Linked DNA regions of Homo sapiens. The protein of the gene in region 3 purifies or fractionates together with the protein of the main gene of each other region. This does not show direct contact. Each region holds a gene or a part of one and is shown on either strand. Other genes may lie near its edges.

Region 1 (7,039 bases), on a different chromosome or scaffold from region 3:
ACCTACTGTGAGCAAAGCACAACACATACAGGAAAGACTTAGAAAGAGAGGGTATATTCCTGCACATTCTTGCCTACCTAGACTGAGGACCCTTGACATCTGCAAAGTTGACTGATGGAGGCCATATTCATCCTACCATATTGATAGTATTAACGTCAAGGAGGGAAACTTGCAAAAATATTTGGTAGGGTAAAATATAAACTAAACCTTTGGGAAAAGAGTGAGATTTAGCAGAAAGACAGGGAGAGGGGAGTGAGAATTCAGGACCAAGAGAATGACTTAAGACAAGAATATTTGGCTATATCAATTTAGAATCATGTCATGTGCCGCTATATACCGTGGTTTTTGTTTGTTTTGTTGTTTTGTTTTGTTTTGAGATGGAGTCTCACTCTGTCAAGCAGTGCTGCGATCTCAGCTCACTGCAAGCTCTGCCTCTCGGGTTCACGCCATTCTCCTGCCTCAGCCTCCCGAGTAGCTGGGACTACAGGCAACTGCCACCACGCCAGGCTAATTTTTTTGTGTGTATTTTTAGTAGAGACGGGGTTTCACCAAGTTAGTCAGGATGGTCTCGATTTCCTGACCTCATGATTCGCCCGCCTCGGCCTCCCAAAGTGCTGGGATTACAGGCTGTGAGCCACCACACACGGCCTACTGTGTTTTATTTACTACTTAATGCATATTTACAAAAGAATTGCCTTTCTTTCATGTATTTTTACACTTATTTAATAGGTAATCCAAGCACATGCTAAACATTTTTCAAAAGTTACAAGAAAGCAAATAGTGAACGATCTCTCTCCTAACAAAATAACCTGAAATACTCTATGAAATTGCATTTCTTTTCAACTATTCTAAACTTTAGACTTTCTTCTAATTCTGACTGGTATTTCCATAATTTACTGATTCCTAACCAGAAAACTATAATACGATTCTCTTTGTCCCATCCACAAATGTTGCACCAAAAACATTACCACTATACAATTGGAATTCAAGGTATATACAGGAAAACAGGTTTTAAAAGAAAAAGCCTGGATTTTCCCCTTCAGGTAACGTAGTTTTACTTCCTTTTTATAAGATAGAATTTTCCTCTGTATTCTGCCAACTTCTGTTGAGTCAATTAACTTACCGAGTGACTGTCTTTTAAAAAAGACACACACACACACACACACACACACACACACACACACACACACTCTTTATAATCTAGAAGCTTGAATCAGGGAACCAAAATTGATCATGGCTACTTTATATATTACTAGAGTATCAATTTAAGTGGTATTGTTTACAGCTGTAGTCTCCAAAACGGGGTTCATGTATGCCAAAACAGTGTATAAGGCTATATGTTGGGATGTAGGAGAAAATTACAACTTGCTTAGAATTGCTTTTTACTTTCTCCTTTCAAAATTTATATTGTAGGAAGCTTTATCATACATATAAGTCAATATATTGTCACATGTATAAAATTTATCAACATATATTGGGGTGTACACTCAAATATATTTTGCTAATAAAGGTATATAATAAAATAAATTTAGAGAATTAAGCAGCTCAGTACATGAGGTGATTATTTCTAAAATAAATAAATGTAGGCTGGGTGTGGTGGCTCTTGCCTATAATCCCAGTATTTTGGGAGGCTGAGGCAGGTGGGATCACTTGAGGCCAGGAGTTCCAGACCAGCCTTGCCAACATGGAAAAACCTTGTCTCTACCAAAAATACAAAAATTAGGCAGACATGGTGGCACACACCTGTAATCCCAGCTACTCAGGAAGCTGAGGCAGGAGAATCACTTGAACCCAGAGGCAGAGGCTGCAGTGAGCCAAGATGGCACCACTGCACTCCAGCCTGGGCAACAGAGCAAGACTCTGTCAAAAACAAAATAAAATAAAATAAACAAATGTACTGAGTTTCTAAGGTACATGAAATGCTAATTTGGGTTGAATAGACAGAGAATGCAAATTGTAAAAGGGAGAGATCAATGCAGGGCTAGCCTGCAAACTTTTAGAGGGAAAAGTAGGTAGCTTATTTTTTGATATGTGCTTATTTTCAACCACGTTACTGCTAAAAGAATTACTGAAATGAAGTGTATAAACCGTGGTTGAAGAGGAAGACCCTGAAGTCAGATTACCAGGTTCAAACCTTGATTCCACCAATTACTCTGGGGAAGACTAAATCACATATGTGTAAAGCATCTGTTCAGATGACAATGTGTAAAGCACTGTTCCACATCTGATACATCAGTAGTCAAAAATGTTAATAATAACTAGTATTAAATAAAAAGGACACCATTTATTTATTTTTTTGAGACAGAGTATACCTCTGTTGCCCAAGCTGGAGTGCAGTGGCGCAATCTCGGCTCACTGCAACCTCCGTCTCCAGGGTTCAAGCGATTCTCCTGCTTCAGCCTCCCAAGCAGCTGGGATTAAGGCGCCCGCCACCACGCCCAGCTAATTTTTGTATTTTTAGTAGAGATGGGGTTTCACCATGTTGGCCAGGCTGGTGTCCTATTCCTGACCTCAGGTGATCCGCCCGCATCGGCCTCCCAGAGTGCTGGGAATTATAGACATGAGCCACCGTGCCCGGCCTAAAAGGACACCATTTAAAAGACATTAGTTTTCTATAATAATGAGAACGAAACAGCCGAATCATGTTTTAATTCAACATGACCTTTGAAAAAGATGCTCTTTGGGTGTAACTGAAATATATTAGAACAAATGGAACAAACGGCTTTTTTCCTTCTCTTTTTACCCCCCAAATTCCCCTCAACATCACTCCCATGGACTATTTTGTCTTGGAACAGCTAATGTAAATTAAACAATGTCATCCTTAGTCAAACAGATACAGGAATAACTGTATACAGTATATCTTCTTGGCTTCACTTTTATGTGGAACATGTGTTTACATTTTGACCTTTTGTCTTTTTTTTAATTAAGAAACATTTTTAAACAGCAGCAACTGGAAAGACTTTTTTTTTTAGTTTCCAAACATATTAAGCTACACATGGCAGAGCCTATTGCTGAAACATTTATAAATGTTACACCAACTGTTTATAGTTCTGATTTTCTTATTTGATTGTTTTGTTGTCATGTAAGCCATGACCTGAAAATTTTAGCTCAAATTCTTTCCATAAAATTACATAATGAAACCGTCTGAGTCATTTTGAATTTGTGAAGCACAAAATTCGCTCTCATAAAATAATGATAAGCATCATAGTGAGGTTTTTAGAGTAGGATTTTGTGACTGTCCCAACCACAACTAGATGATATAGATAAGACAGGAAGGACAAGAACAGGATCAAGAACACAGTAACAATTCATTCAATTCAGAAAAATCACTGCATTCTTGTTTCTTTTCCATTGTCTCTTCTTAAGCAAGTGATAGGAAAATATAGTCTAATATTAGATTTCACTTCATTGAAAAAGAATCAAAGAACAAAAAAACCTGGAAATTCTGAAGACAAAAGTACTTTTCTTTAGCCCATCCTTTTAAACCTTATCAATCAACTTGATGGAAGACAGAAAAAATTCATATGATGTAAGTTAATATAAATAGCGCACAAAATGTTGGCAACAGTTGTATGAACAAACTCAAATTTATAAGGCCAAAACCTACCAAATTTGGATAAGGAACTTCTCTGTCTCTCACCTGCCCCATCTATTAACAAAATTGATCATACATACTATCTATGAGGCCATCTCTGACAAAAGGATGGTGTCTTAAGTCTAGGCAGGGAGCAGTGGCTCACGCCTCTAATTCCAACACTTTCGGAAGCTGAGGCAAAAGGACTGCTTGAAGCCAGGAGTTCAAGACCAGCCTGGGCAAGAAAGGAAGACCCATCTCTACCAAAAAACAAACAAAAACAGAAAAAAATGAAGTCTAAAGAGAGTAAATGTAAGACGAATCATTTCTTTTTTCTTAAAATAAGAACTATCCTACCTTCCAAGTTTCACACATTGTTTCTAATAGGCCATCCCAGATCTCAGCACTTTCTGTGATTCTCCACACTTCTAAAGTAGACCCTGCAGTTAGTCACTTCAGTCTTCTTCACTGAATCTCTCACCTTAAAATATTCCATCATTCCCCAACCTCCACTGTAGGACTTTATTACTACTACTACTGACAAACGATTTTCTTAATGGGTCAAAAATAAACCCCAAATTGATGGATTCATAGGTCCCCTGTTTGTATTTGCACAACTGAAAAAGAAACACAATTGTTTTTCAACATAGCTGTTAACAAAATCTTGACGGCTGGAAATTTACTGGAATCCATGGAATGAGATTTGCAACAATAAAATAACCATTCAATATTCACTCCTGTTCTACCCAGACACAGCACATCAATTTATGTGCATCCACAAAAAAAAAAAAAAAAAAAAAAAAAAAAAGCTGGTAACTGTCTTATCTAAAATAATAGCTAAATGGTTTGGTTTTTGATAGAAAAATTAAAGTACTAATGCTTCAATTTCTGTTTAGGTGTTTCCATTGTATGTCTTCAAAGTGTAAGTTACTCAAGCAAGCCTTCACAACTGGTTTTACTTCTCTCTTGCTCTCTCCCTCCCCCTTTCCCTTCTGACTTCATTATCTTTCTCCCTCTACCACCCTTCTTCCAAAGCCCAAAGTAATAGATGGTAAGAGAAGGGGTTTTTTGGTTTCCCAATTTCAACCCCTAAAGCAATCCACCTACTATTACTAGTAAAATGAATAATGTTCTTAACTTCTGCTTTGAAAATCACAATCACTATCTCTAACTCAAAATAATTTTTATTATCTTTTCTGACACTATTGTTTTATGCTCATAACTAAAATAATGGCTTCAATATTTTAGCCATTGTCATGAATGATTTAATCCATTTCAGGAGGATTTAAAACCACCATGTAAATCTCTAATAGCCAAAAACTATAAAGTCTCATTAATTACAAAATCCTGGAGCTCTTAGCTACAAATTATGAGCTGAAAAGATATGGATTTTATTACTGTATAACATTAAATCCTAAGTAAAACTGCCACATAAGCTCATTCCCTGCTTCACCTCGCCAAGAAGTGCAATACTGGATTCATTTCCATAAAACACAATGAAATTGCTATTCTGCAAAAAAAAAAGTATATAACTCTGTAAGATTTTATATCAATGATATAAACTTTACAATATTTTGCTTGACCTTAAGGATGTTTTGTAAATTCTCCAAATTCCCTTTGAACTGTAAAAACCAAAAGGTAGGTAAGATTCCAACAAGACTGGACATGGGACAGAGTTAAGAGGATTAAGCCACAGTTATTACATGGTAAATTTCTATTTATTACTTTTGATATGCTTGTCTTATGGGGTATGAGTCTATATTTTTGGTATGTGTATCTACTTTGAACTCTAGATCTTTTTCTTCTATAACTCAGAAAATCAGCTCTTTATTTTCTATCACGGTAGTTATTTTTTCTCCCAGGTTGACTGCTCTGCATGTGCCCATGTGTAGTTAATTTTGTTTCTGACCACTTGTCCATTTATCAGAGTAATCTGAATGGTATTTACTTCATTTTTTGTTTCAGCAATTCCACTGAAGAAATTATGGGGCAACACAAGATCTCTTGATGATGCCTATATAAAATCATGAATTACCACAGATTTTACTCCAAACTAGTACTGATGCAATGCTATAGCCTACCGTAAACCTTCTAAGAAATTCAAGGCCTAGGGATGCTACCCTTTCAGACATGACATGTCAAACTGTATTTGCTTTCTCTAGGACGGGGAAGAGGGAGACAGAGTAGATGCCAAGAGGTTTCCATTATGGCTTCTTTCTGGCCTTTGAGAGTTTCCCTAGAAAGGGTCACCATAAGCCACTATCATTCTAACATCTAAAGCTTGCTCTTTCGACCAGAATTGATAGCAAATGGAAAGTAACAATTAGAATTTATAAGACTGGAAGAGAATAGGAGAGGGAAAAGAAAGCTATTAGAAGAGGAAGGGATCCTTTGGAAAGGTAGGAAAGAAGATGACCTTCACCCATCTGACTGTTTGCTCTAGCGCCACCTACAGCCACACCACCTGACCCTCAAAAATCACCGACCCCTGGCCAGACAACATTTTTTCCAGCTAACTGCAGGTGCCTGGCTTATTTGATTAAACCACCACATTATAAGGTCAAGGTCACATGCTTGATCCCTACGTTTGTCCTACGTTTGTCAATGGGCACAAGTTGCATGGTCAAAAACTTGCCTTTTAACTCCAACCTCTCATAAATACCATCACTTACGTTAAAGACATTCACAAGAGAGGATATGAACCAACAATGCAAATCCATCAGCATTACTAAAAGAAAAAAAAACAGGAAAACCTGACTTGTGAGTCAGCCCACAGAACAAATTCCATTTAAGAACTCCCTGATCATCCTGGGCTTCAAGGTTAGATACATAAGAGTAAGAAATCAGGCTTCCCTACTTACTCGTTTTATGTGTGACCTTGGACAAGTTAATTTTTCAGAGCTTTAACAATAAAACACATTAAGGGTCCCAAATAGAGCTTGACATATAAGGGATACTCAGGTTATGCTAGCCCCAGCCCCATCTGGAGATAGAATCGGGCAGTCAAGAGCACAGGGATGAAGCCAGGTCCACCTGTATCCCAATCTTGATTTTGCAGCTCACGTGAAACACTGGGCAAGTGATGGCCTTATCGTTCTCATAAAGCTGAGACAAAAAAATTAAAGCATTTAGACAGCACACAGCAATTGTCAACTAACGGCAATTATGTTTTAAATGTTAAGAAGAATATAGTATTATCACTATCTGTTAATGTTTTCCAAAGTACAGTCATGGAACTATTGATATCAGAATGACCTGGGTGGGATGTCTACTGAGGGGGAAGAAAAGGATATCATGTCCCATCTCAACCTATTTAAAAAAGCTCTCCAAAAATGGTACAGGGTAATGGTCATTTCTGAATCAAACTTCCTTGAGATATCTATGAAAATTTCAGAATTACTGACCCAGCAGGTCTTGTGCTGTGTCATAGTAAATTAAGACTTGTTTTCCAATCCTTATTCTTTA
Region 2 (2,614 bases), on a different chromosome or scaffold from region 3:
GCGCTTCCCTTCCCACTTCAGCTCTGACTTGAAGGACCTGCTGCGGAACCTCCTGCAGGTAGATCTCACCAAGCGCTTTGGGAACCTCAAGAATGGGGTCAACGATATCAAGAACCACAAGTGGTTTGCCACAACTGACTGGATTGCCATCTACCAGAGGAAGGTGGGCCTCCCCTCCTTAAGCCTGCTGAGGGTTTGGGAGCAGGCCAAGAGTCAGGGAGGACAGCCAATAGAGAAATAGAGAAGAGAACACAGGTTCAGGAGCAACCTAGAGTAGAGAGCTTAGAGCAGTGGGGTCTAGAAATGGGATTCTGGGGTCATTTGGCCATTCCATGACCTTGTGCAACAGATGCCTCTCTCTGGGAAGTAATTTCCCCTTTGATGAGTTGCTACATTAAGAGTTTCGGGCTGTTAAGAGGAATCCATAACCTAATGGTAAGCACAGGCCTGAGTCAGAGTAAATATCTCTTGAATGTTAGGCCATTCGCATTTATTGTTGTAATAATGATTATGTTGAATGCTGAGGTCTGGGTGATTCTTGATCCCTCTCCAGGTGGAAGCTCCCTTCATACCAAAGTTTAAAGGCCCTGGGGATACGAGTAACTTTGACGACTATGAGGAAGAAGAAATCCGGGTCTCCATCAATGAGAAGTGTGGCAAGGAGTTTTCTGAGTTTTAGGGGCATGCCTGTGCCCCCATGGGTTTTCTTTTTTCTTTTTTCTTTTTTTTGGTCGGGGGGGTGGGAGGGTTGGATTGAACAGCCAGAGGGCCCCAGAGTTCCTTGCATCTAATTTCACCCCCACCCCACCCTCCAGGGTTAGGGGGAGCAGGAAGCCCAGATAATCAGAGGGACAGAAACACCAGCTGCTCCCCCTCATCCCCTTCACCCTCCTGCCCCCTCTCCCACTTTTCCCTTCCTCTTTCCCCACAGCCCCCCAGCCCCTCAGCCCTCCCAGCCCACTTCTGCCTGTTTTAAACGAGTTTCTCAACTCCAGTCAGACCAGGTCTTGCTGGTGTATCCAGGGACAGGGTATGGAAAGAGGGGCTCACGCTTAACTCCAGCCCCCACCCACACCCCCATCCCACCCAACCACAGGCCCCACTTGCTAAGGGCAAATGAACGAAGCGCCAACCTTCCTTTCGGAGTAATCCTGCCTGGGAAGGAGAGATTTTTAGTGACATGTTCAGTGGGTTGCTTGCTAGAATTTTTTTAAAAAAACAACAATTTAAAATCTTATTTAAGTTCCACCAGTGCCTCCCTCCCTCCTTCCTCTACTCCCACCCCTCCCATGTCCCCCCATTCCTCAAATCCATTTTAAAGAGAAGCAGACTGACTTTGGAAAGGGAGGCGCTGGGGTTTGAACCTCCCCGCTGCTAATCTCCCCTGGGCCCCTCCCCGGGGAATCCTCTCTGCCAATCCTGCGAGGGTCTAGGCCCCTTTAGGAAGCCTCCGCTCTCTTTTTCCCCAACAGACCTGTCTTCACCCTTGGGCTTTGAAAGCCAGACAAAGCAGCTGCCCCTCTCCCTGCCAAAGAGGAGTCATCCCCCAAAAAGACAGAGGGGGAGCCCCAAGCCCAAGTCTTTCCTCCCAGCAGCGTTTCCCCCCAACTCCTTAATTTTATTCTCCGCTAGATTTTAACGTCCAGCCTTCCCTCAGCTGAGTGGGGAGGGCATCCCTGCAAAAGGGAACAGAAGAGGCCAAGTCCCCCCAAGCCACGGCCCGGGGTTCAAGGCTAGAGCTGCTGGGGAGGGGCTGCCTGTTTTACTCACCCACCAGCTTCCGCCTCCCCCATCCTGGGCGCCCCTCCTCCAGCTTAGCTGTCAGCTGTCCATCACCTCTCCCCCACTTTCTCATTTGTGCTTTTTTCTCTCGTAATAGAAAAGTGGGGAGCCGCTGGGGAGCCACCCCATTCATCCCCGTATTTCCCCCTCTCATAACTTCTCCCCATCCCAGGAGGAGTTCTCAGGCCTGGGGTGGGGCCCCGGGTGGGTGCGGGGGCGATTCAACCTGTGTGCTGCGAAGGACGAGACTTCCTCTTGAACAGTGTGCTGTTGTAAACATATTTGAAAACTATTACCAATAAAGTTTTGTTTAAAAAAAAAGTGTCGCTGGTGTTCTCGACTTCGATCACCCACCCACACACCCCCAGGGGGTTGGAAAGGGAATTTCGGACCCCAGCGTGCAGGCCGATCAGGTCCTGGCTTGAAGTCCTTGTAACCAGGGTTTAGCTGAAATTCCGGCACTCCTTCGGCCCCGCAGGAGAAACGAGCGTCAAACTGCCCTTTGACCCCAGATTCGGGGTCCCCAAATCTGCGGCGCGCCCCCTCGGCGTCCAGCCCGGGACCGAGAGGGCGCTCTAGGGAGGCGCTGGGGCTGGCGCGCCAGGAGGCCGAGCGGCGGCGGGGGCGGCCCTGGCAGGGGGAGTAGAAGGGGGAGAGGGTGCGCGCCCCCCTTCCCGCATCCTCAGCGCCGGGCCAGGCGCGCCTGAGGGACGCGGGGGCGGCGGCAGCAGGAGGGTCCCCGCAGCACCCTGCGAGCGCGGCAGCCCCGGCCCGCGGGCGGCGAGTTCCCGGTAAGTGCGGTCCCGAGAGCGGAGCGCGCTGGAGAGGCGTG
Region 3 (7,039 bases):
ACTCAAGAGCGTGCCAAAGGGACCGTCACAAAAAAGCGGGTCCAGATCAGCTCAAGAGAAGTGGCCCTGGCTTAAATATGGATGACTCAATCACCAGAAATAGATCACTCCTGAGAGTCTACCAATTAGGTTACCTTCCACATGGTTTCTCCAAACCCTGAGTATAATCCTTTGCCAAGTAACCCATACACTGGATGCAGAGAACTAAGGCCCAAGAGATCCTGCTCCCAGCTAAGGAAGAATCACCTTCAAAATGACTTCCCCCCTTAACACTAGGCGCTTCGAACAGGATTCATGCAGGGAAAAGTACCCCTTCTGGGGGAAGACTGCTTGGCTAGCCTGCGGGAAGCATAACAGGCTGACAGGGGCTGGGCGAGGGGGCGGGGAGCTCTGCTCACTCACAGTATCCAGCCTCTGCCCCACAGAATGGGACTGGCTAACACCTGCCATCCCGATGGCTCCCAGCAGTGGCTCAGAACCACACCCGGACTCTAGCAGGCTGCACTCAAAGGCCAGCTTCCAGCTCCCTCAGTGGGGTGGTCCCTGGTCCCCTTCTCAGCTTCAACTTCCTCACAAACAAAGCAGGGCTGACATGAAGGTACATGCGAGGCACTAACCTCGTGCTTGGCACCCACCGCATGCTCGTGGACAGTATTACCTCATTTCCACGTGCCATCCCTAAACCTCCCTGCCCATCACCACGGCTTAGGTTCAAGCCTAAACTCAGAAGACTTCAACAGGTCTGAGTAGCTACTACTATCCATCTAGAGTTGGCAGACAAGGCTGCGGGGCTTGTTAATTCAGCTGAGGGGCAGTAAGCAAAGGGAAACTCCTTTATTCTTAAAAAATAAATAAAATAAAAATCACCCATTTTCAGATGCAGTATTTTAAGAAACATTTAAACATCCCGAGATTAGGATGCATCATATAGTATCTTGCCTTCTATAATCATGACTGGCAGCACTTTTTTCTTTCCAAGGTACATAAAAACAGTAGTGTCTTAACAGCATCTTGGAGGTGACAAAATGTAGCGTGTGGTACAAACTAGATGCTGCTGAAAGTGGTAAAATTCCCAATAAAGATTCCCAACCTACCCGGAGCTGAAATGGGAGGGAATGGCTCCAGGACAAACAAGTCAGAGAGCCACTCGGGATATTCGTGGCCTCTCTCCATGAGATAAATGAAAACACCCCAGGGTGCCTGCAGAAGCAGGGTCAGGAGCTGCTGACCTGTAAGTTAGCGGTCTGAACTGTCTACGCTGGGGTCAGCACTCGAAAAACCCAGGACACCTCGTTATCAAAGTGCCCCGCTTTCCCGGGGGTGGAGCTGCAACTGCACAGAAAGAAAATGGCTGAGGCTTTCTGCAAAGGTGACAGCGACAACTCAGGAAGCTCAAGCCTCCCACAAGTATTCAAAGCTGTGGCCGTTCTTTGGGCACTTACCCTGTAAGAGCTTCTGGAGAAGGAAAGCAGGTGAAGACATGGGAACAAGCACATGATTAAAAGGAAATAAAAACCATTCAAAACACTCACACCCATACCTGGCACTCAAGGGAAGTAAAGCTAAGGAGGCCTCTCCATTAAAACACACACACACACGCACACACAAAGAGGTTAGTGTTTAAAAAAGAAAAAAAAATGGGCTGGGCATAGTGACTCACACCTATAAACCCAGCACTCTGGGAGGCCGAGGGCGGAAGGATCACTTGAGCCCAGGAGTGCGAGACCAGCCTGGGCAACAAAGGAAGACTCCATCTGCACCAAAATAATAATAATTTTTTTAAACAAAGAAAAAGAGGCACACTAATGTTAATCAGCGAGCCCAACTTGGCGCTAGTTCCTTGGGAAGGGCTCACTGGGGAAGGTCACCGGTTGAGGAACCAAGTTACAGCTCCCATGACTTGGGGTTTCAGGGCAATCTAACTCCTCAGTTACCCACCAGCTCTACGCCGTGTCCAGACCTCTGCAGGTTGCGATAAAGAGCTGAAGAGCACTATGACTTTGCTGCACAAGTAGCAGAAGGGAGAGGCAGACTGGCAGCCTTTCTCCAAGAAATACTGGGAGCGCCCCATCCTCTAAACGAACCCGAGACCCTCCTACCTCCTGAATGATCTGCTTCCGCATCCATGGTCCATCCATCCTCAGCCCCCAAGTCTGACAACTCCCCCTTCAGCACCCCATTGCTGAAGGGCACAGTACTTTCTGGCAGTGGCGGGGTGATGGCCTTGTCCCTGGGGCTCGAGCTGGTCTCTGTGCAAGAGTCTTCAAGCCCTGAAGTGCTGAAAGAATCTGAGCAGTGTCCTGGAGAAGCCACCAAAGGGACACTTTGGCTGCTGTCTGACATGCAGGTGACACAGGTGGCATCTTCCACCAGGATGCCTGCCCGGTCCGGCAACTCTTCACTGGGGGTGGTCAGTGCCAGGCAGGAGGCCAGGGAGATGTGGTGTGCAGAGATATTTGGCTTACTGTCCTTGGTGGGGCTGGACAGAAGGCTCTTCAGGCAGCTCACGTAGGTCTTTGGTGGTGGTGAGCCCTCTGCTGGTAGGCCTGGCAAGGGGAGGCCAGCATCCGGCGGGGCAACAGCTGCCTCTGCTGTGGCAGGCTCCGCAGTGTCTGGGCCCAAGACAGTTTTCTGGTGAACTGGGACACAGCTCTCTTCCTTCTGCCCTTGGAGCTGACTGGCCTGACACACACGACCTGCAACCTTGCCAACCGTGGTGGCCAGCACCTGTTCGGTTGCTTCTGAGATCACTTGGGAGATTATCTGGAAGGCAGCCCGCTTAATCTCCTCATTTCTATCCAAGCCCTCCTCATTTCTATCCAAGCTCTCCTCATTTCTATCCAAGCCCTCCTCATTTCTATCCAAGCCCTCCTCATTTCTATCCAAGCTCTCCTCATTGCCCAGTTCTCCCTCGACACCTCTATCCTGGGCTTTGGCGTCTGCGACTGGGGGTGCTGGCGCCGCATCGTCCTTTGCCAGCTCTGTGTGAGCCGACTCGATGAACCTACTTGGCAACTTCTCTGCTACATACTCTTCCTCCTGCACTGGCCCCACCACCTGGGATGAGCTGCTCTTCCCCTTATCTTCTTCCCCCTCTAAAGAGGCCAGGCTGGGGCCCTTGCTGTTCTCCAATTCCAAGACATGCTCCCGAGACAACAGAGCTTCTTCAAGCACCTTTTCCCCCAACACGGCATCACCAGTCCCTTCGGCCCCACCTGTCTCTCTTGCCCTCTCCCCAGAGCTACGCTTCTCTGCGGGGACTACGGGGTAGCCTGGCTGGACCTTCCTTGGCACCCTGCTGAAGGGGGAATCTTGCTTACACACCTCAGCTGATTTGCTGGAGAATAGTACACCCTTTGGGGATGAAAGGGGGCACTCTAGAGGAATCGATTTGGCTTCACCACCTGTCAGGGCTAGCTCCAGCTTTGTACTGTCATCTCTGCGTGTTCCTGGTCGCAATCTCATGTCTGTGGTGTTAGGAAGAATGCCCGAGGACTCTGATCTTCGGCAAGGTGGGTGTGTCTGGAGCAATGCTGGGGGCTCTGCAGGCAGCTTGCTCACGGTGGACAGTTCCTTTTCTGGAGGCTCTGTGACACTGGGGGGTGTGGACACTACTTTGGGACAGACGTCTTCCACGGGGAGAGGTTCCTTGATGGCAGGGTCAGCCCTCAGCTGCACAGCACCAGCCTCCACCTGCTGCTCATCATGGCTGCTGACATGGCCTTTTTTACGAGAGAAAAACCACCACCAGCCGAGGAGCGCCAGCATCCCAGGCAATGCCAAGGGGAAGAGCGAACGGAACTGGATTGCCATCCTGGAGGCTTGAAGTAATTACACCTGGGGAGAGCAGGAGAGCGGGGAGGAGGGATGTTACAGAGCCAGGTAGGAGGATACTGGCAACCGCACATGCAAGACAGTCAACAGGGTAGAGCTGGAGCCATCTCCTCCGCCTTCCCTGCCCTCCAAGAGGAGCACACCTCTCAGCTCGTACCAGTCCACCCTCTGTGTGATCCACTGGGGGTCAGTGGCCAGGAAGAGGCATCTTCCCCTCCATGCTCCCCAACTCACGCACCCTCTTGAAACAAACCGAGCATTCTATTCTTTAACCCAAATCCCTCCCTTCATCACTTCATGATGCCAAATTCTCTCTATGTTCCCCAAAAAGGGGCTAGCTCTGCTCAGTGTGGCTCAGTTCTCTAAACTCACAGAACATTTTTTTCTATCAAGTGGCATCAGAGCATTTCAAACCCCCATGGAATCCACATGTGCATGGTTCCCTCACATCTACCCATAAAATCATGAGTCAATGAAATGGAACTTTGTTACTCAGCAATTAGAGACAGTGAGAATGAAGGAGGAATAAAATTCCCAATGGCTAAGGAGATGCTCCAGGGTGAGGGACCAACACAGCAAACTGCAGCATGAAGGTCCAGGTCAGACTTGGAAGATTCAAATACAGGCGCTCCCTGATCTTCCAAGGCTCAACTGAGAATTTTTCAACTTTACAATGGTGGGAAACAATACCCATTCAGTGGAAACTATACTTCCAATTTTGGATTCTGATCTTTCCCTGGACTACCAATAGGTGATGCGCTACTCTCTCGCAATGCTAGCTCCCAGTCATCCACTCTATCACAAGGGTGAACAACGGGCACTCCAGAGTGGATCGTGTTGCTAGGTGATTTTGCCCCACTGTAGACGACTGTGAGTCTTCTCAGCTCATGTAAAGTAGCCTAGGCTAAACTATGGTGTTCAGTAGGTTAGGTGCATTAGATGTATTTATTTTCGATTTATGCTATTTTCAGCTTACAATGGGTCTACCAGGATGTAACTCCATTGTAAGCTGAGGAGCATCTGTACCATCGTGGGGTCAGTGAGGGTGTCCTAGGGCCCCACTGCGTAGTCTGGACTTTATCCTGCAGACAACAGAGAACCAGCATAGGTCTGCAAGGCACACACATCAAATTGTTTCTAGAAGGCAATTCTGGGAACAGGATGAAAAGTGAATCGAGGCTGGGCGCAGTGGCTCATGCCTGAAGCCTGAAATCCCAGCACTTTGGGAAGCAGAGCTCGGCAGATCACCTAAGGTCAGAAGTTTGAGACTAGCCTGGGCAACACGGTGAAACCCTGTCTCTACTAAAAATACAAAAATTAGCTGGGCATGGTGGCAGGCGCCTGTAATCCCAGCTACTCAGGAGGCTGAGGCAGGAGAATTGCTTGAATCCAGGGGGGTGGAGGTTGCAGTGAGCCGAGATCAAGACTCCATCTCAAAAAAGAAAAGTGAAGTATATCGAGCAGAAGGAACCTAGAAACCTAAGTCAGTTAGGTCTAAGCAAGGAGGAATAGTAAGGGCCTAGAAGAAGGCAACAGACATGTAAAGGGGATAGAAAACTCAATTTTTCCTCATCTGTAAGATGGGGACACATCTCTTAATGGATGGTTGGTATAAGGATTAGCTGAGATATAGAAAGTTCTTTGCAAAGCAGTTAACACTCACTAAAGGTATATGATGGGCTTATTCTAGAACACTTACATTCAATGCTTCCTATGCCAGCAAACTTTAAATCTCTCTGCCAAAGTAATGTCTTTTTAAAACCAAAAATCCTTCAACTGACAAGCTGAATTACACCTTATTTGGGTTTGTTTTCTTTTAGAGATAACAAATGCACATGTTTTAACAACTCATATTGGTTTGACTTATATTGTTTTCTGGCAGAACCAGAACATCAGTACTTTTAAAAGTTCCCTGAGAGGTTCTACTTTCCAGCCAAGGCTGGGAACCACTACTCTAGGACTCTGCTTCTGAAAGTGCGATCCATGTACCAGAAGTCCTGAATATTGCCTAGGACCTTGCTAGAAATGCAGTATCCCAGTCTCACCTCAGACTTGCATTTTAACAAGATCCCTAGGGGATTGAGAAGGACCTTACAGTTTGTGAAGGAATGCTAAGAGGTGTGTTCTGCCCCTGAAGTGATGAAGTGGGGGCAGTGGTAGTGAGAAGGTCACCTCCATTTGAAAGTCCCTATATCTTTAAAGATAAACTTTCTTGCTGATATTTGAAGCAGCAGCAATGATAGCATTTGAAGCACAATGCAGGGCTAGGCAGTGGCCAGGGCTAAGGCTTTACATCAATTCCTCAGGGAAGAAATTTAGTGCTACCGTTTTGCTTCACATTCAAACACAGAACCTTGCTAGATTGTTTTCCTTTTATCTCGCTGTCGTCCAGGCTGGAGTGCAGTGGTGTGATCTCGGCTCATTACAACCTCTGCCTCCAGGTTCATGCAGTTCTCCTGTCTCAGCCTCCAGAGTAGCTGGGTCTACAGGCGCCCACCACCACACTTGGCTAATTTTTGTATTTTTGGTAGAGACGGGGTTTCGCCATGTTGGCTAGACTGGAACTCGAGACCTCAGGTGATCCGCCAGCCGGCCTCCCAAAGTGCTGGGATGACAGGCCACGGTGCCCAGCCAAATGAATTACTATCTTGAAGGTTAAAATAGCTCAAGGAGGCTGGGTGCGGTGGCTCACACCTATAATCCTAGCACTTTCAGAGGCTGAGGCGGGTGGATCACGAGGTCAGGAGATTGAGACCATCCTGGTTAACATGTTAAACCCTGTTTCTACTAAAAATACAAAAAAAAAAGAGAGAGAGCCGGGAGTTGTGGCGGGAGCCTGTACTCCCAGCTACTCGGGAGGCTGAGCGGGAGAATCACTTGAACCCGGGAGGCAGAGGTTGCAGTGAGCCAAGATAGTGCCACTGCACTCCAGTCTGGGTGACAGAGCGAGACTCAAAAAAAAAAAAAAGCTCAAGGCATACAGCCAAGGGATGGGTACCTAAATTCTCTCCCACATTAAATCTGGAACCCATTATTCTAGAACTGTGGGGAAGAGGCGCTATATGAGCCAAGAAAAGGGGAAGTCTGTACTACCTTTCCGGAGAGCCTTATGATAGCTCTTAAAAGCTCATAACCACATCCTACAACTCTGAAATCCCACACTTGGCATCTTTAAATTAAAAAAACAAAAACAAAACCACAACAA

What was found.
Region 1: the proteins of AKAP1 (region 3) and PRKAR2B purify together in Homo sapiens (affinity purification with mass spectrometry; 5 studies listed by BioGRID and IntAct, with this or other methods). This does not show direct contact.
Region 2: the proteins of AKAP1 (region 3) and PRKACA purify together in Homo sapiens (affinity purification with mass spectrometry; 8 studies listed by BioGRID and IntAct, with this or other methods). This does not show direct contact.

Annotation. Positions count from the first base shown.
Region 1 is NC_000007.14:107,047,677-107,054,715, reverse strand, and holds part of PRKAR2B (cAMP-dependent protein kinase type II-beta regulatory subunit), read right to left. Parts: intron 1-7,039. UniProt on the Homo sapiens protein: Regulatory subunit of the cAMP-dependent protein kinases involved in cAMP signaling in cells. Type II regulatory chains mediate membrane association by binding to anchoring proteins, including the MAP2 kinase.
Region 2 is NC_000019.10:14,091,177-14,093,790, reverse strand, and holds the end of PRKACA (cAMP-dependent protein kinase catalytic subunit alpha), read left to right. Parts: coding exon 1-163; intron 164-553; coding exon 554-679; 3' UTR 680-2,103; downstream 2,104-2,614.
Region 3 is NC_000017.11:57,102,239-57,109,277, reverse strand, and holds part of AKAP1 (A-kinase anchor protein 1, mitochondrial precursor), read right to left. Parts: intron 3,838-7,039; 5' UTR 3,814-3,837; coding exon 2,100-3,813; intron 1-2,099.